3 separate regions of the Homo sapiens genome follow, and all the other regions are linked to region 2. The links come from fine-mapping of genetic effects on gene expression. A gene starts in region 2. Each other region holds a variant in brackets. All regions are shown on one strand. Distances are from middle to middle.

Region 1 (8,181 bases), 74 kb before region 2:
ATTGTGCACTTTGCTTCTATTATTACATTGTAATATATAATGAAATAATTATACAACTCACCATAATGTAGATAGAATCAGTGGGAGCCCTGAGCTTGTTTCCTTGCAACTAGATGGTCCCATCTGAGGGTGATGGAAGCCAGTGACAGATCATCAGGCATTAGATTCTCATAAGGAGCATGCAACCTAGGTCCCTTGCATGCACAGTTCACAATAGGGTTCAGGCTCCTATGAGAATCTAATGCTGCTGCTGATCTGACAAGAGGAGGAGCTTAGGTGGTAATGTGAGCAATGGGGAGTGGCTATAAATAGAGATGAAGCTTCACTTGCTCACCCACTGGTTGCCTCCTGCTGTGTGGTCTGGTTTCTAACAGGCCATGAACTAGTACCAGGGGTTGAGGACCCCTGTGTTAGATAATTCAGGAAAAGACAGGGCACAGTCTGCACTGGCATCACTTGTAGGAACAGAGTGACTTTGTGTCCCAGAGTAGCTAGTATAGCTATGATAGAAAGGTAAGAAAAAAATTAGTCAGCAGATGGCCATTTGGATTTTCTTGAGTATGATATTTCAAGATACCTCTAATATGTCAAGAATGTTGATGCACATCCAGAGAGGATTGGGAGCCATTTACTCACCATCTGGATACTGCAGATATACAGACCAAAGAGATGCTAAGTCACAATGCACCAGAGAGGAGTTGCTGTGCCTGCCCATGGCTATTTGTGCAGAAGTATAATACTAGCTAGTTACCTGAACATGGAAAATGTCATTAAGAAGACAGTAGAACTTTTCATCCAACAGTGTCATGACTTTATTTCGAAGGTTGGTCTGTCGTTCTTTATAATGTTTACAAGTGTCTAGGCCTAGGACATTGGCCATGAACATCTGGATGGTATAGAAAGTTTGATGGAAGCTGATCTTATTCAATGAAATGGCAATAATCCTGTTTGTGAGAAAATCAAGAAACAGAAGAGAGTTTTTAAATATATATTTTTGAAAATAATAGAGGTTGAAGGAAAGCTCTGTCTTCTCATATTCAGCTATAATGATGGAGATTTTCCAAGCTATCTCGCAATGGTTCTTTATTGCTGCTTCTGATATACTCCCTCTTCTCCTGTTCCTAAGCCCTGATTAATTTAACCTAGCTAATTCTCTCCTTTCTAGTCCTACTGCCACCCTATACTACCACAATAGCAAGCCACTACCCCCATCCAGGTCATGACCCTCTGACTGGGAGCTCCCATTGCCTAACGGCATGAACCCAGGCCTCCTTTATGTGACACACAAGACTTTCCAAAGCCTCATTCTATCCTTTCTTGCCACTCTCTGCCTAGCAATCTACCCTTCACCAACAGCAAGCAGGTGAGAGTTCCCTGCACACCCAGAGCTATTTCTCCTCTCCATGCCTTTGCTTATGCTGTCTCCTCAGCCCAGAGTGCTATGGCTTCTCATTGCCCCTCATTTGAGGTTCATCTCAAGTCTCAGCTCAGGTGTAGCCTCCTGGAAACTGTCATCAATGTCCTAAGGTTGACTACATACCCTTTCTTCTCTGAACTTCCACAATTCTCTATTGCATGACTCTATCGTTGCCCTCACTATATTCAACTTTTAATGCTATCTGATATGGTTTGGCTCTGTGTCCTCACCCAAATCTCATCCCGTATTGCAACCCCCGAGTGTCAGGGGAGAGACCTGTTGGGAAGTGATTGGATCATGAGGGCGGTTCCCCCCATGCTGTTCTCATGATAGTGAGGGAGTTCTCATGAGATTTGATGGTTTAAAAGTTTGGCACTTCCTCCCTTGCTCGCTCTCTCCTGCCACCATGTAAGACATGCCTTGCTTCCCCTTTGCCTTCTGTCATGATTATAATTTTCCTGAGGCCTCCCTAGCCATGTGGAACTGTGAGTCAATGAAACCTCTTTTCTTTATAAATTACCCAGTCTCAGGTAGTTCTTTATAGCAGCGTGAAAACGACTAACACATTATCTCTCTCCTCCTCTTCTGTGAGAGCTCCTTGAGGGCAGAGAGCAGACTTTATTGATATTCAGGGCTTTGGCACTTGTTGACACATGTCCCCACAATTCATATGTTAAATTCTTAGCCTCTAGGGCCTCAAAGTGTGACCTTATTTGAAAAGAGAGTCGTTGCAGATACAATTAGTTAAGATGAGATCATGCTAGAGTAGGGTAGGCCTCTAATCCAATAAAACTGATGCCCTTATAAAAAGGAGAAATTTGGACACAAACAACACACAGGGAGAATGCCATGTGACATGAAGGCAGAGATTAGGGTGACGCTTCTACAAGCCATCTTTGGAACACCAAAGATGGCCAGCAACCACCAGAAGCTAGCAGGTGGGCATGAAACAGATTCTTCCTCATGGTCCAGAGAAGAAAAGATGCCTTGATCTCAGACTCCTACCCCTGAGAACTATGAGACAAATTTCTGTTGTAAGCCATCCATTTGTAGTACTTTTTTACAGAGGCCCCGGCTAGTGAATACAGCACTTAGTAGTTCCTGAACATAGTAGGAATTCAATTAATGATTGAATACATGAATAAACAAATGTCTTCTGACTGTTGTGAATTATCCCTTCAGCAATGATAAAGATATTTTAAAACTGGCCTTTCTCAGGCCTAACTTTAATGTGGGATAGAGATACAGCTAAGAATATTATAAGATTAACAAGCATTTTCCCCTCACACTGTTTAGGTTAGGTGGGGAAGGGATATGAGTCACCATCATTATTGTCCTGGTCATCACCACTGTTATTGAATACCATACTATCTACTTCCATGAGGAAGTAGAATGGATTGTCCCAAAGATAGCCCTCATAATATTCCTTATATGAAAATAAATAAACAACATGAGACAAGTATATTAGATCTGTCTTCCAGGGAAAAATCCAAAGACCTCTTATTCTCTATCTCCAGTCTTAGGACTAAATGGTTTGAACTAGTGATTCCCTGTTGAGGGAAGAGACAGACCCTCTCATATTGTTTTATACTCAGAAAAGGAAAGAAAAGTGAAATTAAAGGCAGATAGCCCGGCGCCTAGGAACCAGACCCGAAACCAGGCCTGGGCCTGCCTGACCTAAGCTCGGTAGTTAAAATTCGACCCCTGACCTAGCAACTGTTGTTATCTATAGATTCCAGACATTGTATGGAAGGGCATTGTATGGAAGGACATTGTGAAATCTCTCGTTCTGTTCTGTTTCACTGTGACCACCGGTGCTCACAGCCCCTGTCACGTACCCCCTGGCTTACTCAATCGATCACGACCCTCTCATGCGGACCCCCTTAGAGTTGTGAGCCCTTAAAAGGGACAGAAGTTGAGCATCAGACGAGCTCGGATTTTGAGACGCTAGCCTGCCGATTCTCCCAGCTGATTAAAGCCACTCCCTTCACTATCTCGGTGTCTGAGGGGTTTTGTCTGCGGCTCATCCTGCTACATTTCTTGGTTCCCTGACCGGGAAGCAAGGTGATTAACAGATGGTCGAGGCAGCTCCTTAGGCGGCTTTAGCCTGCCCTGTGGAACATCCCTGCTGGGGACTCCAACCAGCCAGAGTGACGCGGATCCTGAGAGCTCTCCTGGGTAGGCATTTGCCCCGGTGGGACACCTCGCCAGAGCAGTGTGTGGCAGGCCCCCGTGGAGGATCAACAGAGTGGCTGAACACCGGGAAGGAATTGGCACTTGGAGTCCGGACAACTAAAACTTGGTAAGACTAGTCTTTGGAACTTGCCCACTCCATTTGAGTGGAAGCATGGCCTGATCACCCACGGCGTGCCTTTATCAGCACTTGGTTTTGGTTTTGACTTGGTTTGAATTACTTGACAGGACTGGTCTTGGGAACTTGCCCACTCCATTCCCACTCCATTTGAGTGGAAGCATGGCCTGATCTGATCACCCACGGTGTGCCTGTTCCGGCACTTTGGTTTTTGTTTTTGACTTGACTTAGATTGCTTGATACTTTGGTTTTGGTTTTGACCTGGCTTGGATTTCTGAATACTCTGATTTTGGTTTTGATTTTGGTTTAGTGTAAACTGCAAAAGTGTGTGCGTGCCCTTTTTACCCGTTCTTTGTTTTGTGGTGTGCATGTGGTGTGAGAGTGGTGTTTTGTCTCGAAGAAACATGGGTCAGGCACAAATAAGCCCACCCTACTAGAAACTATGTTGAAAAATTTCAAGAAAGGATTTAAGGGAGATTACGGTGTTACTATGACACTAGAAAAACTTAGAACTTTGTGTAAAATAGACTGGCCAACATTAGAGGTGGGTTGGCCATCAGAAGGAAGCCTAGACAGGTCCCTTGTTTCAAATGTATGGCACAAGGTAACCTGTAAGCCAAGGCACACAGACCAGTTTCTGTACGTAGACAATTACAGCTGGTTTTAGACCCCCTTCGCCCCCACAGTAGTTAAGAGAGGCAGAAAGAGAGGAAGAAACAGAGGCAAAAGGAAAGTCAAAGAGAGAGAGAGGGAGAGAGAGAGACAGAAAGTCAAAGAGAGAAAGAAAAATAGAGAGAAATATCCAAGTAGTTAAGAAAAAAATAGTGTACCCTATTCCCTTTAAAAGCCAAGGTAAATTTAAAACCTAAAATTGATAATTAAAGGTATTCTCCGTAACCCTGTAACACTCTAATACCACTTTGTTGTTAGTGTAAA[C/T]AAGGGCGTATCCCGAAAGCACTGAGGCCTTCCTATCAAAAATCCTTAACCCAGTAACCCACGGATGGCCCAGATGCATTCAATCTGTAGCAGCAGCTGCTTTGCTAACAGGAAAAAAAAAAAAAAAGAGCTGTGGGAAGGCAAAATTTATGTAAAAAGAGTGTTATATGGTAAATTCTTGTCTTGAAATAAATTAACTGTTGTTTAAAGAAAGAAATATTTGTAATAAGTCAGAAAGTTGAGACATGTCAAAGAATTATCTGCGAAAGTCATAGAAAACGATGTTATAAAAAATTTATGCAAAAAATATTGTATAATTTGAAAGTAATAAGGCCTCCTGAGTACTATTGAAGAAACAGTTTATGTGCAAGGTGCATAAGAAAAGTAAAATATACTTTTGGTAAAAAGATTAGAAGGAGGCATAAGAATGTGGATTTTTACCTACATTAAAAGGTTAAAAAAATTATTGTTTTGAAAGTTTAAGCAAGTTTTAAAATGTTAATTGTAAAAAAAAATTCTGTGTGTAAACTAATTAGCTAAAGATAAAAAGGTATCATCCAGTTTTTCTGTGAACTGGACATTAAAGTAAAAATGCAACAGGTTTTTCTTGAAGCACCAACCTGCTCTTTAACAAAAATTATAAAAGGTTAAAAAGAGTCTGTAAAAACTTACCTTATGGTCAAACATGAAAAATTGGATAAATATGTCTATGAGGTTTTATTAAAATTAAGTTTAACATTAATAACACACTAATATAAAGGTAAAATTTAGCTTATCTGGTATAAAAATCATACAAGAAGTATTATTAAATATAAAATGGTGTTTAGCTTTCTTTGGTCTAAAAACTAATAAAAATAGGTCCTAAAGGAAACATTCATTTTACTAGAGGATCATAGAAGTTAAAGACTTAAAACAAACTTTGGCAATTAAGACAGCATACCAAGATGCAAATGCCTGGTTGAAATGGATCAAATATTCCATCTGCACATTAAACAAAAGCAGTTGTTATGCTTGTGCACATGGCAGGCCAGAGGCCCTCATTGTCCCCCTTCCACTAAAGTGGTCCTCCAGTCCACCAGGCGTGGGCTGCATGGTAGCTCTTTTCCAGGATTCTACAGCCTGGAGTAATAAGTCATGCCAAACTCTCTCTGCTATCCCTGTGGGTCAGCCCCCGAGGGCCATCCAGCCTCCGTCTCCCAACACTAAGTTCACTTCATGTCTCTCACCACAGAGAGGAAACTTAGGATTCCTTGGAGACCTGAAGTGATGCAATGAGCTTAAGAATTTTCAAGAGCTTATCAATCAGTCAGCCCTTGTTCATCCCCAAGCGGATGTGTGGTGGTATTGTGGTGGACCTTTACTGGGCACTCTGCCGAATAACTGGAGTGGCACTTATACTTTAGTCCAGTTGGCTATCCCTTTCACCCTGGCATTTCATCAACAAGAGGGAGGAAAAATAAGACATCGTAAAGCGAGAGAAGCCCCCTTATAGGTCTTTCGACTCTCACGTCCATTTAGACGCAATTGGAGTCCCACGAGGAATACCAGATCAATTTAAAGCTTGAAATCAAATAGCTACAAAATTTAAGTCAATATTTTAGTGAGTGATGTTAATAAAAATGTAAATTAGATAAATTATATCTATTACAAACAACAGCAACAAGCTTTTCATGAGTTGAAAGAAAAACTCAGGTCGGCCCCAGCCCTGGGGCTACCTGACCTGACGAAAGTGCACACTCTATGTGCCAAAAAAAAAAAAAAAAAAAAAGGGCCATCTATACCAATTCTAAGTTAATTTAGACTAAACAAGGTCTTACTCATAGCAAAGGATAATTGAAATCCCAAACTTACAAGGTTTTCAACAAAAGTAAAGTTTGCTAAAAGTTAACAGTGTAACATGTATTATAGTAACTTCTAATCTTGTGGCCTTAGACAGTCTAGTCCACAGATATAAAGAAAGTTCACTTAAAAAAAAAAAAAAAAGAATGGTTATCTTCAAAAAAAAAAAATGGCAGTTGGAGTTTTAACCCAGACTGTAGGGCTCTGGCCAAGGCCAGTGGCCTATCTCTCAAAACAACTAGATGGGGTTTCCAAAGGCTGGCCCCCATATCTAAGGGCCCTGGCAGCAACGGCCCTGTTAGCACAAGAAGCAGATAAGCTAACTCTTAGGCAAAACCTAAACATAAAGTCCCCCCCATGCTGTGGTGACTTTAATCAGTACCAAAGGACATCATTAGCTAATGAATGCTAGACTAACTAGATACCAAAGCTTGCTCTGTGAAAATCCCCACATAACCATTGAAGTTTGCAACACCCTAAACCCCGCCACCTTGCTCCTGGTATCAGAGAGCCCAGTTAAACATAACTGTGTAGAAGTGTTGGACTCAGTTTATTCTAGTGGGCCCAACCTCCAAAACCATCCTTAAACATCAGTAAACTGGGAGCTGTACGTGGATGGGAGCAGCTTCACCAACCTCTGCAAAGTGACTCAGAAAAAGCCCTGCTCCAGTCACACCCGGAAGCTGACTGGTCCACGCACGGCCGAAGCATGAGAAAACTCATCACGGGACTCATTTTCCTTAAAATTTGGACTTGTACAGTAAGGACTTCAACTGACCTTCCTCAGACTGAGAACTGTTCCCAGTATATACATCAAGTCACTGAGGTAGGACAAAAGATTGCTACAGTCCTATTATTTCATGGTTATTATAAGTGTACGAGGACTCTAAAAGAAACTTGTTTGTATAATGCTATTCTATCCAAGGTATGTAGCCTAGGAAATAACCAACCTGATGTGTGTTATGACCCATTTTAAGCCTCCAATGATCACAGTTTTTTAAAATAAATTAAGGACTGGTCCTTTTCTAGGTGACACAAGTAAAGTAATAGCTAAGACAGAAGAAAGAGGGATCCCCAAGCATGTAACACTAAAATTTAATGCTTGTGCCACTATCAATAGCAATCGGCATAGAATAAGATGCGGTTCTTTAAACTGAAAAAAAAAAAAGTTACACAGCAGGAAATAAGTATATCTGCCACGAATTAAGCTCATGTGCAAATGTGTGTAATTACTGGTCTTGTGTCATCTAGGCTACTTAGAAAAAGGATGAAAAAGACCCTGTTTAGCTCCAAAAAGGAGAAGGCAGCCCCTCCTGTACGAGTGGAAGCTGCAACCCCTTGAAATTAGTAATTACAAATCCCTTAAACCCAAGGTAGAAAAAAAGAAGTACACGTATCTCTGGGCGTCGATAAAAAAGGACTAGATCCTAGAGTAAATACCTTAGTAAAAGAGGAGGTTCGTAAACTCTCTCCGGAACCAGTATTTCAGACTTTCTATGATTAACTAAATGTGCCAGTACCAGAGACTCCAGGAAAAACCAGAAATTTGTTTTTGCAATTAGCCGAGCATGTAGCCCAGTCTCTAAATGTCACCTCATGTTACGTTTGTGGAGAAACTGTAATAAGAGATCAATGGCATAAGAAGCCCGAGAATTAGTGCCTACAGACCCAGTTCCTG
Region 2 (8,181 bases):
TTTCACAACAATCCTGAAATGATTACAATTACTCCCATTTTATAGATGAGATAACTAAGGCAGGAATTTAGGGTCAAGGTCACACAGCCAAGACTGAAACGTAGGTCTATTTCCCTTCAAAGCCTAGCTCCTTTTACTACACTGAAAAAGGGGGTTAAAATAACTGAACGAATCCAAGGATTTTCAGGTGAAATGCACATCCTGCAAGTGAAAGGTAATCCCTCTTCATTCTGAAAGCTGAGTAGTATTTTAAGCAGTAATTACAGGTGGCTAAAAACTAAAGGCTTGGAAAGGATCAAGGTAAGACTACCCTCCAATTTTGTATTATTTTAAGTAGTTTAAAATTACTCTTACTCTGTCATGCCCTTATCCTACAGCTAAAACACAAAGCTTATGAAGGTCAGGGTTGACTTCACATTCAGTTGACTCTGTAAAGCCCAGATTATTACAAAAAGCATAGCTCAACCCTCCTTCCCGAAAATCTTTGCCACAAAACACAGCATAATTCCAAAAAAATTGAATGTTAAAAGAACTAAAAGGCAAATAAACAAAAACTTTTTAAATCAGTAACAAACTGTCCTTAATGATCAGTTTTATAATGGGTTCAATGTTGCAGTAAATAATATTAAGGGTTAGAGTATAATCCAGATGTTCAATTCATTCCATTATCAAACTGGAAATCAGATTTAGTAACCAGTTCAGACTCCAGAGAGCTGGTTCATAATCAGATAATGGGGGAACTAGACAACTTTCCTAATGATACCAACTACAGAATACAGATTTTAACTATGTAGGAGAATAAAAGCCACTTTTCGGGTAGCACTTCAGTCTTTCAATTTACAACACATTTTCTAGTTTGCCAAGTCTTAGGCTTGAAACAGACCTCAGAATATATCTGATGTTAGCCCCTAGCAAATAAGTATTATTACAACTCACTTTATAGAAGAGGTAACAGAATTCTAGATCTTTAATAAAGGGATTGGAATCTTTCAGTTTCTTACAGTTTTTTTTTTCAACCACAAGAACACAGTTTTCCAGTAGGCAAAGAGAGATGTAACGTTTACTGAGCATTTACAAAGAGTCAAGCACATATGTTATCTGTCATTCTCATAGACCGCGTATTACACAAACAGAGATCTAGGCTTTTGCTCAAGGTCACAACTATAAGTGGTAGAAGAGAATGATATCCAGGTCTGTCCACACAAAAAGCTCTGGGTAGAGCTTGTTCAACAATTTCATAAATAAGGATAGACTTAAAAAAACACACTGGACCTATGGGATGAGAAATGACACTGACTCAAGCCTGGATGAAGTAAAGCATGCAGTTTGGGGGAGGGCTCAGTCTGCAGGCCTCTGCCAGCAGCAGCTGAAGAAAGTGACCTTTACTCCAAACCCTACAGTGCGACAAACCACCCATCCAGCTCTGCCTAGAGTGGGTTAATATGCCACAATTCGAAAAGAGAAAGAGAATGAGTGTTTCATGGTGGCCCCAGACAGTTTGGTGGCCGCAGAAGTTGAGAAGGCTCAAATCTGGAGATCAGGTTTGGGTTGGAGTCGTGCGTAAGGGAGCGGATGTCACATAGGTGGGGAAGGGAGCTGACTTGAGATACGTTGGCTTAGGAAGAGATGTTGCAGGAGAGAGGGTGAAATGCACAGGCTAGGAGAGTAGACGGCTTCACTTGAAGGGAAGGGATTGGGGCTGTGGATGCCTCTAGAGGCAGTTGTCAGAGGGCCTCTAAAAGGTCCATTTTAGAGGAAGCGAGAAGGAAGGTCTCGATAAGGAGCCATTCAGGGTCCATTACCTGCTGGATGGTTGTACAACGGCCTCAATTTCTCGGGCAGCATCAGCTCCACTTTATCGAGGAGCCGGTGGTAGGTGGCCCGCAGGCCTCGGGCACCGGCGGCCGACATCGCCGCCGAGGGATCGTTGGCAGCCGGGTGGGAGCGTGGCTGTGTTCTCGTCCCTGGCTGACAACGAAGGGGAGCTAGTCACTTTTCCTGCCACGACGACTCGCGTCCGCCTCTCGCCTGGAGTACCCTTCCCGCGGCTTTCCCTGCCCGCTGTGAACCGAAAAGCTGCGGCCCGCGCCCCGCGAAGGTTGAGGGGGCGGAGGCTGCCGACTGCCAGCCCCCGGTCCGCCTCCGGCCCCCGGCAGGAGAGAGGGAGGAGCCATGGCAACAGGTGCCAAAATAATCACCTCACCAAGTCTGCGCTGCGCCCTGCTGGCAGCGCGCTTGCGCAGGCCGAGCTGCCCGCCATGATTGGCCCGCCCCGAGGCGCGGGCGGGGTCGAGCGGAAACCTCCTCCTTCTCCCCATGCCCTCGAGGCCATGTTGGAGAAGGGAAAGTGAAGCTGCGCTGGTTCTACTGCCCTTTCACTTTGATTAAGCAGGCCCGTAGTTAAAATGGGTTTTTGGGCCTTCAGTGCCTAAAGATGATGCCGCACAATTCTCTTGCTTCTTTTCACTGGAGACTCGTGAGCGAGAGACTACAGAATTGAGTAGCTTCTCTCTCTACTCGTCTTTTATCCCTAGCGACTTAAGGATCTGGTTAGAGTGGCCCGAATGCATTCTTCCAGGGTGAGGGCAGCCGCAGCACACACCAGCCTCAGTCCCCAGGGTGGTCGTCATCTCGCGAGAAAGGGTTGGCGGGGAGGGTATCCAGGACGAGGAGAGGGAGGAGTCGCCATCGCCTCCGCCTCCGCCTCCTCCTGTTGGAGGGGGGCTGAGGGAGGAGACTGTTGCTGATCTTTGGATGTTCTGGTTAGTCTAAGAAGGAGAGTATGAGGCGAGCTCCGGCCCGGGTGCGGCCGGGCTTCAGGGGCCCAGGCGCCGCTGCTGCCACCGCCATCTAACGCTGCGCCCTGGAGGCCCGGCGCGCGGATGGTGCCGGTGCGGCTCGGGTGTTGAAACGGGTGTCCCCTCCCCCTCCTCCCCTCCCCCACGCGGTGGTCTCCCCTCCCACCCGGCTCAGGCAGAGCCATGTCTCGGGGTGGCTCCTACCCACACCTGTTGTGGGACGTGAGGAAAAGGTCCCTCGGGCTGGAGGACCCGTCCCGGCTGCGGAGTCGCTACCTGGGTGAGCGGGGGCCCCGGGGCGGAGGCGCTGAGGTCGCCGCCTAGAGTGGGGGAGGGGGCACGCTGCCGGGTCTGTTGGAGGTGGGACGGCGTCTCGGTGGGGGCGCCCGGAGACTCTGGGGTGTTGGGTGGGGCCTTGGTTGCCGAATTCCGTGCCGGTGCCTCCCCCAGTCAAGCCCCCTGTGCATGCTGCCAGCCGCCGCCCTTGCTGGGTTTTTCTCGGAGGGCCGGGCCGTGGGCAGAAGGTACTGGCTTGTAAAGGTGTTGGGGTCGCTGATGGGTTGGGACTCGGGAGACTTGCGGAACCTCCAGGAGCTGCCGCGTTTAGAGCAAAAGTTAGCTCTTTTGCTCTTTTCCAGCGCGCTTTCCCCGCTCAGCCGAAGAACCTAAGTTGTTGCCCACCCTCTCCTTCAATCTCCAGAGGGTTTAGGTGTCGGCTGCGACGCGTTGACCACCCTCAGGGACTTCACGCTCCAGACAGAATCCGTGTAAACTGTTTTTGCGGCGCTGAGCCAAAACCTAAAAGTGATAGCTGAGCTCTCCCCACCCCCGCGCGCTCTCCCAGTTCCACTCTGCTCTTCAGTTCGTTTTGACCGCTTAAAGGTGGTGTAGGGTTTCACGTTCCTCTTCCCACCCCTGGAAAACACACTTGGCATTTACAGTTTCGTAGTTAAGCTTTCTAAAAACAACCTTCAGTACTTGGGGGAACAGTATTCCACTTTTTTCGTTTTGCATAACATTTTTTTTTTGAGGATTCTAGGTCACGCCCGAGTCAACTAAAAAGTTTGGTTTCTTAAAAATGGACGTACTTAGTAAAGGTCTTTTTTGTTTCTTCCTGTATACTCTTCATTACTCTTTCTTTCTATTTGGAGATACGGCAAACAACATCATAAAATTTTTTTCTTTCCAGTTTTGCCACTTGCTAGTTAAAAAGTGTTTGTTGCTCTCATTTGTTTTTGATTTCAAGTAAAGAGAAGAAAATGAAATCTCATTACAACCAACAGTTCTGGTTTGTAAATTATTTAAGAAAAGTTAGCATGCAATTTTTTAATTCTTTTTAGTGTCTCAAGTAAAATACGAATACATTTTGTTTATAAAAACTCAATAAAAATGAAGCAAAAATCCCTTTGATCCCTCCCATTCAATTTCACTCCGCCACCCTTAGAAATAATATTTTCTGTTTTCTGAATATTCTTCCAGACCTTTTTGTTTGCATTCTTACAAGTACATATGTACATGTACAAATGCTGGGGTGTGTGTGTGTTTGTGTGTGTATGAGAGAGACACCTGAGTGCATGGTGTCATATTGTAAACATTGTTTTCACTTCTCCACATTTTGGAGATCTTTCCATGGCAGTAAAAATAGATTGATTCTGTCTTTTAAATTATTACATAGTAGGTAACATTATGAAGTACCATAGGGTACTCAACCTTTCTTCTTTAAGTAGACGTTCGCCCTTACAGCATTTTAATGAACATCATTCTACAAGCTTCTGTGCATTTGTTGTAGGATAAGTACCTAGAGTGGTGATTAATCATTTTAAAATTGAACATAGCTGGAGTCTGGTTTTTAAAACTATTTACCAAAAAAAGTGTGCAGTATTTCTTTTAGAATTTATTTGCGGAGAAAGAACTTAATTTTAGCTTAATAAAACAAACGTTAACATTGTTTTGCATGGATACATTTATAATTTGGTCCTTTATCTCAGTTGGACAGTTTAAGTACTTGTATATAGTTCTATATTTTAGTGTTTTCTTTTGGTTCAGTTACTTCAGCTATATCTACAAACGAGTTAATTAAAATATAACAAAACCATATACCTGCTTTTCCCCCTCCTACTCCAACTCCCTAATGGAAATGGAATTTGTGTATTGGGTCTAGGGGAATTGAAGGGTTCACTGACTATATTAGAAAGCCTGAATTACAGTTTTTCAAATGTGTATGTATACATACAGGGAGTTCTTTATCTTAAATAATATTTTAGATATGATAATATATACTCTTAAAATAGGACATTTTTGGAATGACTTCCTTTAAAAGTGGTTTTCTAAGTACTTGAAAATACTTTTTGAAAGTATCGAAACTTGAAAATGTTTGCAAAGAACTAATTTATTGGCCTTTACCCTTAGTAGACCTTTACACTGTTATTCAGCTCTTCTATACTACAGTGCTAATCCTGGCTTTGCATTCAGGAAGCAGCAAAATCCACATTGGTAATGTTTGAATTAGTGATGGTTTTTTTTAAAAAATGACTTTCCCTCCCAGTTTTATTGGGGTATAATTGACAATTAAAAATTGTTATATTTAAGGTGTAGGACTTGATAACTTCATATACAATCAAGTTAATTAACATATCCATCATGTCACATAATTACCATCTTTTTTTGTGTGTGGCGATAAAATGACTTTATCATTATTATTAATTTTATTTTTATTATTAGATAAAATGACTTTTTAAAGTACAGTACTCTTGGCCGGGCGCGGTGGCTTACGCCTGGAATCCCAGCACTTTGGGAGGCCAAGGTGGGTGATCACTTGAGGTCAGGAGTTTGAGACCGGCCTGGCCAACATGGTGAAACCCTGGTCTTTACTAAAAATACAAAAATTAGCCGGGAGTGGTGGCGTACGCCTGTAGTCTCAGCTCCTTGGGAGGCTGAGGCAGGAGAATAGCTTGAACTTGGGAAGTGGAGGTTGCAGTGAGCCAAGATTGTGCCACTGCACTCCAGCCTGGGCGACAGAGGGAAACTCTGCGTCATAAATAAATAAATAAATAAATAAAGTATGGTACACTTATAAAGCCTTCCTTTTAAAAGTCAAATTCCAAGTTAGGATTTTCCTAAGGAAATAGATTCCTTTTTTAAAAGACTTCAATATTTAAACATTACGATTGTCTATCTACAGGGTTGTAGATTTAAGTATTTTTCTGATACATTTTCATTATTTGTATTTCTACAGATTTTTTAGCAGTGAATTACTGCTAAATAGTAAAATTGGGATAGAACAAATAGATAAATTTTTCTTGTAGCCTTTACATTTCCAGTTATTTCACCATAGCATGTGCCCTTTCAATGTTAATATTCAAGCTTTGTAATTGATTTTACTTAAACTGATTAATTATCTCCTTTCTTCCCATCAAAGAAAATTATACTTCAGAAAACTTCCTATTATGTTGTGGGAATGAAGATGAATAATTTCCCAGATGTTATTTATGATTAAAAGATATGTTTACTTAGAGCTCCCAAATCCACAAGATTCACCTGGGCCAACAGAGTGTTGTTTTAGACTAGCATGGATTTAGAGGATAGGCCAGGGATTTTAATCTTTGTGAGCCCTATCTAAATTTCAATGTAGGATTCTTTTTTTTGGTGGGAGGCGGGGGGCAGGGTGAGGCAGGGTTTTGCTCTGTCTCCCAGGCTGGTGTGCAGTGGCACCCTCATGGCTCACTGCAGCCTCCACGTCCTGGGCTCAAGGCCATCCTCCCACCTCAGCCTCCTGGAATTTTTTTTTTTTTTAAAGAATAATTATCAAAGTCAGAGATACCTGTAGGTTTAAATGTTTAAATGTAATAGTTTCTCAAATTACTGTATACTAGGTGTAGAGTAGTGCTTTTGGAAATCAGTGATTTATTAGCCACACAGATTTTATTATCCCATATATATACGGTTTTGTAAAGATAAACATTGTTAATAAAATAAACTTATTTCAATACATTGCTTGTTTCTACTCATATTTCTTTCCTTTTGGACAGACACTCCTACAACTTTCTAACCCTTCTAAATTAAAAGATAGTAATTGATAAAAAAGTAATTTTAAGGTACTTCTCAAGGGAGTTATTTATTATAATGTATAAAATGTGTAAATTATGATTAGGCAGCCAGTGACAATTTTTTAGTGGAGATTGAATCTCATCTTTTTGTAAGGAGTTTATGAAGTCAGTGTCCTTTGAATATCATTAGAGTCAGTATGTACTGAAATGGATAATTTTGCGTGTCGATTACTCTTTAGTGCATCTTGAATACATCTGCATTCTAGATTACCAGGTTCTTCATAATATGTTGCCAAGTTACAGTGTATTTATTATATGAAGATTAGTAACTTCTGACTTTTGCCTCTTTTTTTAGCCATTGGGGAAAAGTTAGTGAAATATTTGTATTTTGTTTCTTTAGTCTTGAAATTTCAGTGAAAGCTGAAAAATGTATGATTTTAGTATTGAAAAATGACGGTCAATTGTGACAAACGTAAGATATACTGATAATTCCTTAAGGCAGGACACCAAAGGCATATAAGTAATCATAACAACCATAGACACTATGATAGCTCTACTGTGGGTTTCATTGCTTCCTAAAATAGGATGAATCAAGTTATAAGTGCTTAGAAGGTTTAGAAGCTTCTGGTAGCATGGAGCTTATGTTACAAGTATGCTTTAGGTCAGTGTTTTTAAAATGTTTTAAAAATGATCCATGATAAAAGTACATTTATGTGGCAACCTGTGATATACACAACGAAAATAAAGGATTCTCTAGGTGTATATATAAACCTTACTAGATGGGATGCATTCTGTTTTTTTTCATATTGTTACAACTGTTGGTGTTGAACTGGTAGAGTACGCACTAATGAGTCTCAGCTTGAGGTTTGGAAAATTGTTCTAGATGGTGTGTAGTTCTTGTAATTTAATGTTGCTTCAGGTTTAAGGTGGGCAGGCTTCCCCAAGTACTTGAAGGAGATTAAAAAAATTTTTTTTTAAACACTGCTGATGGCTCCACAGGGAAAATGTAAATAGTGAAACTTCATGTACATCTTGGACAAAATAACTAGGGTCGAACACTTTTAAATAGATATCTATTGTGGGATTGCTGACTTGTATGGTAAGTATGTTTAACTTTATAAAAAACTTCCAGACTGTCTTCCAAAGTAATTCTACCATACTGCATTCCCACCAGCAGTATATGAGAGTTCCAATTGCTCCACATTCTCATCAGCATTTGGTGTAGTGAGTCTTCCTAATTGTAGCCTTCATGGTAGGCGTGTAGAAATATATCATTGTTTTAATTTGCATTTCTCTTTTTTTGTTTTTGAGACGGAGTTTCGCTCTTGTCGCCCAGG
Region 3 (8,181 bases), 150 kb before region 2:
GGATAAATGCCGAAGGTCACTTCATTCTGGACACAGTTGGATCAATACTGATTAAGTAGAAAATCCAAGCTTTGCTTGAGAACTTTTGTAACGTGGAGAGTAAAAAGTATCGGTTTTATTCTTTGCTGATGTCCTTTCTGCTTGAAATAACAGTCACCATACAGCTAAAGGAGAGGAGTTTCTTTCCTTCTAAGTAGGCAGAAATGGTATCATTATGTTGCCGCTCTCCAATCTCCCAGAGCTCGCTCTCTAGAGAATCACCTTCTTTCGCTTTTTTTTTTTTTTTTGAGGTAGAGTCTCACTATGTTGCCCAGACTAGCCTTGAACTCTTGGGCTCAAGTGATTCTCCCTCCTCAGCCTCCCGAGTAGCTGGAACGAACTATAGTTGCACCACTGCAGCTGGCAAGAATCACCTTCTTTATAAAGCGTCAGTCATGCTTCCAGCAAGAGGCAGCATCAGTCATGGCTTTATAACAGCTTCATGGTGCCTCAAAGACTGTTGAGGTTAATGAGAGCCTAGATTAGACAGTTTGGCTGTCCTTCCCTAAAACTTGTTTTCTCCTATTCACTACTCCCCACCGCACTTAAAATCTATGAGTTTTTACTTTTTACTGGGAATGGAAAGTGTGGTGAAGATCATTCAACACTTATGTTGTCATTTCTCCCATTTTCTGAATTTTTTTTTAAATTTCCCCCCTTTTAAAATTGTTCGAAAGCCCACAGTTATGGAAAGAATTACTGTCTAGATGGTCTGCAGAACGTGTTTGGGGTGAGTGGGAGTGAGGGGCAATGTTACTTTTTCTCCCTGTAGTTTGGAGTCCATTATGAGCTGCTGCTTTTTCTTCTCATCTTGTCATCTTCTGGGGATGTTTGAAGGCTGAGTTCCAACAGAATTCACAAAGGGAATAAAACAGGATTGAGATTTTGAGGTGTGCACAAGGTGGTAAGATAAAGGGCATATGAGCTTCAAAACTAATGCTGTTGCATACATGAAGCCTTTTGTTTTTTGAGGAGCTATTTTTGTTATTCTTGTAACGCTCCACCTTACATGCCACATCTGTGTGAGTCAACAGGGATCAGGTTTGGTCACCACACATGTCTGAAGCTGGGCAGCGTCTGCTCTGTGTTCTGTGTGGAATGGAGAAAAAAACGCCTGCCCTGCTGCCTTCCATGTTCATAGGCCCAGCCCAAGAGAGTGACACACAGTGCTGGCCCTGAGACATTTCCACAAAGTGGTCAACTCTGCCTTGCATCCTAAAACTTTTTGGGCATCTATTTTGAAAACTATAGGAGCCTTTGGAAGGCCTCTTATGTTTGGAGGGGAAGGGTGTTGAGATTGTCACCATCCTTCAAGCTGAGACTCCTGGTGAGCCTTTGCCACCATGAAAACCACATAGCTGACCAGGGCTGTGCTTGAGGTACAGAGGACACACATTGTAGACAGGCCTGTGTCATGTTTCCTTACAGTCGTTTTTTACAGAGAAAAGGGGCATTGTTTTTTCACTGCTTTCTCAACAGTTCCTGTGAATAAATGAAACATTTCGGAGCTCCCTGAGAGCAAGAGCCTTCACTTCTTCTTGCGGTGCCGGGACCATGTGTTGGTGAAGCTGGTGCTGTGGGGGCCACTCACTCGAATGACACCTGGAGGCCTGTTCCTCCCTTACCACTCCCTTCCCCAGCCCGACTTCTTGGCCTCCTGCCCAACCAGACACCTCAAACTCTGTCAGTGCCCTGGCATTCTGGCAGAGAATCCTCACCAGTTCTCACCAACCTTCCCCCCAGGCAAGGGCAGCTGCCAGCATGGTGCTCTGCCAGGACAGGTTTCCCTGAAGGAAGCTGCTCACACTGAGATGAGCCTCTCAGGGCAGGACCTCTTCCCAAGCCCTGCACACCCACCCCTGCAGCCCTTTTGGCTCCCCTTTTCCCTGTGCCTCAGCACTCCTTTCCTGGTTGCAGATAACGAACTAAGGTTGCCTAAAGGGCAGATCTGCCCTCTCCATGTCTTCGTCCTGGCAAACAGGGTCGTCTTAAAATTATGCGCTAATTCTGTATGGGAGCACTCAAAAGGCATTACTTAGAGATTGAAATTTCAAACTATCTCTAGTTTTTCAATGGAAATATATCAGCTAGGGAAAAACCATCAAGCTCATTATTATTTTTTGATCTTCAGTTGTATTTTTGTGAATATTTTAATACATCTTTTTCAATTTCTGAATTGTGTTGTGTGCTCATTTTGACCAGAATAGAAAAAGAGATATGCCTTTCACTCATATCATTCCAGCTACACCTGCCTTCTTTTCTTCAAAAATGCCGTCCGTGTGCCTGCTTCTGGGCCTTTGCACATGCTGTTCCCTGGGCCTGAAGCATGCCTTCTGCCAATATTCCTGTGGTTTGCTCTCTGACTTCCTTTAAGCCTCTGCTCAAATGTTACCTCCTCAGGGAGACCTTCTGTGATATATAAAAGAGCAAGCCCCCCACCCCACCGCCTCAGCCTTCCTGGCCCCCTCAGTTCTGCTCTAGTTACTCTATTTCTCTCCCTCTTTCCCAGTACACACTTGTCTGTTCTCCCGCATTAGAACATAGTTAACAAGAGACCAGAACCTTGCTGTTTTGTTCACTGCTCCGTCTGCAGTAAAGGGAACAGCACCTGGCACTTAGCTGCTCAATACATGTTACGTGGATGGATGAGTAGGTGGAAGCATTCATCCATTCAGCAACCTACACTGAGAACAATCCTGTGCCAAGCACTGTGCTAAGCATAAGGAAACAAAACAAGACAAAGCTCCTCAAGGAGCTTGCCACAGGGTGGAGGTGACAGGTGACATGAATGGAAGTAACTAGTAGTTACCAAATACTTGGTGTGAGCCAGGCACTTTGCATTTCTTTCTCTATTATTTCTGTGAGTTAACAGTAATTGTACTAATCTTAATCCCATTGTTTGAAAGATTATATGGCTTACCCAGGGCCACTTAGCTAATAAAGGAACAGAGAAGAGGGGCTGGGCCTGGGGCCGCTGTTTGATCCACAGCCTTGTTCCTAACCACTATGCCCTGTGGCCTCTCACACCAAAAGGAAGTACCAAACTGCTTCCTTACTCAAATAAATGTGCTGAAATGCAGTTGCAGTTTTCTCCCAGTCCCTTAGGAGCTGGTTAGAGAGTCCCTTAGGAACTTGAGAGGGTAGTGTAGTCTAGGTGGTAGGCACAGATGTCTGAGAGCTTTAACCTCAGTCTGGAAGACAATGTGGTGACTTAATTTGTTGAGAACTATGTTACAAATAATGTGTTACTAATAAAACATTGAGGCTTCGCAGTGACTTAGTAATTTTATAAATTACCATGGATTCACAATGAGCCCCTGCCTTGCATAACTTTGGGCTTGCAAAACCTAATGCGTTCTTGAGTGGGAGAAGATGAGTTACAGCTGGCAGGAACTCCCCTGGGAGTAATTCTCACATGTGAACAGCATCCATCTTGCGTGATGTGACAAAAAGAAAAGGGATGCTTCCTTCACCACACAAGGGCAGCAGTGAGTGATGGAATCACATTTTTGTCATCTCTGCAATTCCTTCCAAGTCAGCACTAAGTGTCGGAGGGCATCCACCT[G/C]CTGGGGCTCTGGTTTCCAAGCTACATAGGGGCCTTGCCAACCAAAGATGGACTTTTTATTTATGAGAGCAGCTTCCACCCCTGAGGGAGCTGAGTTGAGCAGTGTTTAGAGGAAACTCAGATACTCTCTCACCCCAGTTGGCTCCCTTCTGACCCCTCTGGGTAGTTCCTGTGCTAACTGGACTGGGGAACCACTGACTTCATCCTCCCACTGTGCAGGAAAGGCGAGGGAGCAGCCACGGGGAGGAAAGTGGCATCTGTGGTATTGGTAGAGCTGGTGGTAGGAGCCAACCATCTGCTTTTATGGCGGGTTCTCCCCTGCACTTTCCTCTTGCATAGTCAAGATATTGTATGAACAATTTCAATATATTTTGTTTTTTTGTAGAATTACTTTAATGAAATTACCCTTTGATATAATTTGAAAAAAATTTTTTTTTGAGACAGTCTTGCTCTGTCATCCAGGCTGGAGTGCAGTGGCATGATCTTGCCTCACTGCAACCTCCACCTCCTAGGTTCCAGCGATTCTCCCACCTCAGCCTCCCCAGTAGCTGGCATTACAGGCACGCGCCACCACACCCGGCTAATTTTTTGTATTTTTAGTAGAGATGCCCGCCTCAGTCTCCCAAAATGCTGGGATTACCGGTGTGAGCCACTAGGCCCAGCCCCTTTGACATAATTCTATCAGCCTACATTGAAGTATGTCATAAAAAAGAGTCCTAGGAAACTAGCTACTTATTGTACTTTACTGCCAGCATGGCTTTGAGAACGTTATTCCCTGTCATACATTTTTCAATGTTATAAAGACCCACAGCACAAATATCTCTCTGGATTTAATACCAGATGATATGGTTGAGATCTGTGTCGCAGCCTAAATCTGTCGAATTGTGATACCCAGCATTGGAGGTGAGGCCTGGTGGGAGGTGATTGGATCACAGTGGGTAGATTTCTAATGAATGGTTTAGCACCGTCCTCCTTGGTACTGTTCTCGTGATTGTGAGTTCTCATGGGACCTGTTTGTTTAAAAGTATGCAGCACCCTCCCACTCTGCTCTCTCGCTCCTCCTCCCGCCACGTGAGACGCCTCATGAGAAGCCTCACTACCCCTTTGCCTTCCGCCATATTTGGAAGCTTTCTGGGGCCTCACCAGAAGCCAAAGACGCTATGCTTCCTGTGTAACCTGCAGAACGGTGAGCCAATTAAACCTCTTTTCTTCATAAATTACCCAGTCTTGGGGTTTTGTTTTTGTTTGTTTTTTGTTTGTTTGTTTGTTTTTTGAGATGGAGTCTCACTCTGTCGCCCAGGCTGGAGTGTAGTAGCACGATCTCGGCTCACTGCAACCTCCACCTCCTGGGTTCAAGCGATTCCCCTGCCTCAGCCTCCTGGGTAGCTGGGATTACAGGCATGCGCCACCATTCCCGGCTAATTTTTTTTTGTATTGTAGCGGAGATAGGGTTTCACCATGTTGGCCAGGCTGGTCTCGAACTCCTGACCTCAGGTGATCTGCCCGCCTTGGCCTCCCAAAGTGCTGGGATTACAGGCGTGAGCCACCACACCTGGCCTTCAGTCCCAGGTATCTTTTATAGCAGCGTGAAAACAAGTAATACACCAGGAAAACTGTTTCTTATGAATATTTTGTTTCAAACTAGTCATGTGCACTGACTTGTCACTGATTGTATTTGTCTCTTTGCTTTTGCTATTCTCTAGGTCCTAGCCAAATTTGTGGGTCACTTTCTACCACTGTACACAGATTGTACACTCCATATACACTTTGTACATTAACTTTACTCATAGCTTTATGTGTATCTTGGATTATGTTCAGCTCTATGATCTGTCTCAGTTTTTTCCAGTGATACAATAATAGATGTGTCCTGATTTAGATAGAGAAAGTAGGTAGGCAGAGATTCTGGCCATGGCATCAGAGATTCATAATGCCAACCACAGACTTACTCTTGACTCCACAAAAACCATTTCACAAATTCCTATTGTTGCCCAAAAGAGGTGAAAATAAAAGTATATGACTGGCTGAGTGTAACAAAACTACATGACAGGAATTACGACTCACATACAGCCTGGAGTCACCTTTCTGTTACACCCTGTTCATCAGTGATGGAAAGGCAGCTTCCTATGTGCTGAAAGTTCATCTCTCTTATTGCAGGTATGATTTCCACTGGTATTAATGAGCTTGAAATATGAAGGCCACTTAAATTTCCCAGAGGTGTCAAGTGATGTGGGGATTTCAGAGCATGTATCAACTCACTTCAGCAATATTAGCATTTTTGTTTGAAATACCCAGTTAGACAGGAAACTTGAAAGATAATTGTTTCAATTATTTGTATCATCATACTGAAAATTGCTTAAAACGTTCTGGTTGTTCCTTGAAGACATTAAAAGAATAGATCCTATTAATGCCCCATAGGTTATTTGATCCTTTTGGAAATGAAAAGATTGACTGATGATTGATTGAATTTTCTGCTTTTTATTAAATTGGTGAGATGGCAAAAAAAGAAAAATGTAAACATATACAAAAGAAGAGAGAATAGTAAAATCAACCTGCATACACTTATTATCTTCAATACTTATTTTATCCAGCCCCTTTTTTCTTTTTTCCTCTTTTCTGAATTATTTTAAAACAAATCCCAAAATCATGTAAGTGCACCCCTACATTCTTCACTGTGCATCTTTTAAAAATGTGGACATTTTCTTACATAATCACAATATCTTGTCACATTTAACAAAAACCTGTCCTAAAACACATTTTTTACAAACAAAATCCTTGGTTTTATATATTATTACCCAGTTAATATTCAAGTTTCCCTTGTCTTAAAAAATGGCATTTTACAAGTGGTTTCTTCCAGTCAGGATCCAAACATAGTTCTGGTAAAGTTTTTTTTTTTTTTTTTTTTTTGCCTATTTTTAAACCCAAAATGGGATCATGGTGCTCTGCAGTTTGCTTTCTTCCCTTAGCATTATGGCAGAGAAGTTTCAGCATGAAGAACTAGGTCATTAGATAATAGCACCTGCAGGACTTTGTCTTTTGTAGATGCGCCGGAATATTTTAAACCATTTCTTTTTTTCTTTCTATTTTAAACAGAGTTTCACTCTTGTTGCCCAGGCTGGAGTGCAATGGCGTGATCTCAGCTCACCACAACCTCCACCTCCCAAGTTCAAGCGATTCTCCTGCCTCAGCCTCCCAAGCTGGGATTACAGGCATGCGTCACCATGCCCTGCTAATTTGGTATTTTTAGTAGAGACAGGGTTTCTCCATGTTGGTCAGGCTGGTCTCAAACTCCCAACTTAAGGTGATCCGCCCACCTCGGTCTCCCAAAGTGCTGGGATTACAGGCATAAGCCACCGCAGCCAGCCTTTGCATTTTAAACCATTTCTGATCTTCTGGATAGGTTGTTTCCAGTTGTTTTGTTATTGGCTATTACAAGTAGTGCTGTAATTGTCATTTGCCTTCATGAGCTATTAAGGAAGAAAAGCCAAATAATTTGCAGGCTCAGAGAAGCAACACAGAATCAGTCACGTCCTTGGCCTTGGAAATGGGATCTAATATCTGAGAGCGATGAAAGTGGCTCACAAGCTCCCCTGCCCTCCTCACATCCTTCCTAAAGCCATCAGGAGCTGGCCACAGAGCACACTGGCTGCTCTCAAGTTTGACTGAGTCTTGGGTTGTTAGAAAAACAACTGGGAGTGGAAGGCAGGAGGGAGCTCTAGAATCCACGGGAGACCTGGCTGTGTTTGCAAAGAAGAAAACATAGACGTAAAGCCCAAAGGGGTCCGTAGGGAACTGCTGCTTCCAGCTTCCATTTCCTCCTGCAAACAGGATGTGAAGCTATTGTCCCTTCTTGGCTCAGGCTTTTGGATTTGTTTGTCCATCCATTTCTTCACTGTGGCCTTTGTGGAGCTGGCCTTTAGTGTTGCAGAATATAAGGAAGGGCTGGGTTTGTTTGTTTGTTTGTCTTTTAAAATCTCCCTACCTCTGTGAAGAGGATGTGGTGCAGATTTGCTTTCAAGCCTTGCCCTCCGTGCTGTGGGGCTGACAAAATTCTGGTTACTTTGCCCTTCAGGGCATTAAATGATTTCAGGTATTTATACCTGAGTCACTGCTCTGCTATGGGAGCGGGGGATAGAACAGCTAAAAACCATCTTAAGGCCTGAGGTTTCTCATTCTGTGATAAGGACTCCAAGGAAACTGAATTTCAATACTAGAGTACATTGTTGGTTCTTTCTCTGCCTTTGAATAGAATTATTTTTTAAATTACAAAGTTTCTTTTAAAAGAAAGAACTTTTAAATATATTTTGTAGGGAATCTCTTAGAAGGTACAATAGATTCATAGGAATGTGGAACATTTGGCCGGGTGCAGTGGCTCATGCCTGTAATCCCAACAATTTGGGAGGCCGAGGCAGGCGGATCACTTGAGGTCAGGAGTTAAAGACCAGCCTGGTCAACATGGTGAAACCCCATCTCTACTAAAAATACAAAAAATTAGCCGGGGGCGGTGGCATGCTCCTGTAGTCCCAGCTACTCGGGAGGCTGAGCGGGGAGAAGGGGAGAATCACTTGAACCCAGGAGGT

Alleles and levels. Positions count from the first base shown, and alleles are read on the strand shown. Sizes are in standard deviations (SD) of each study's normalised expression. Not every link is listed here.
In carriers of allele C in region 3, the expression in fibroblasts of the gene that starts at base 3,142 in region 2 tends to be higher than with G alone (small effect, 0.37 SD a copy in GTEx).

Evidence for each region. PIP is the estimated chance that this variant, and not a neighbour inherited with it, causes the effect.
Region 1: its variant is fine-mapped to the expression of MPC2 in whole blood (INTERVAL, PIP above 0.99).
Region 3: its variant is fine-mapped to the expression of MPC2 in fibroblasts (GTEx, PIP above 0.99).

Annotation. Positions count from the first base shown.
Region 1 is chr1:167,860,120-167,868,300 of GRCh38, forward strand. It overlaps ADCY10 (adenylate cyclase 10), which reads right to left. Exons shown (of 33, transcript NM_018417.6): 15 at 752-944. It also overlaps a transcript of DCAF6 not described here. Among named protein-coding and RNA genes, the nearest start is that of ADCY10, 50 kb to the right of the region's middle. RefSeq lists enhancers at 1,222-1,738, 1,739-2,256. The variant C/T (reference allele first, on the strand shown) is at 4,665.
Region 2 is chr1:167,933,931-167,942,111 of GRCh38, forward strand. MPC2 (mitochondrial pyruvate carrier 2) reads right to left here and starts at 3,142. Exons shown (of 6, transcript NM_001143674.4): 1 at 3,009-3,142; 2 at 1,803-1,968. The coding sequence starts at 1,911. It overlaps DCAF6 (DDB1 and CUL4 associated factor 6), which reads left to right and starts at 2,753. Exons shown (of 22, transcript NM_001198956.2): 1 at 2,753-3,078. The coding sequence starts at 2,982. RefSeq lists enhancers at 1,769-1,878, 2,329-2,638 and silencers at 2,049-2,218, 2,819-2,888, 2,919-3,158.
Region 3 is chr1:167,788,609-167,796,789 of GRCh38, forward strand. It overlaps MPZL1 (myelin protein zero like 1), which reads left to right. Exons shown (of 6, transcript NM_003953.6): 6 at 1-3,311. Among named protein-coding and RNA genes, the nearest start is that of MPZL1, 71 kb to the left of the region's middle. RefSeq lists a silencer at 3,975-4,123. The variant G/C (reference allele first, on the strand shown) is at 3,605.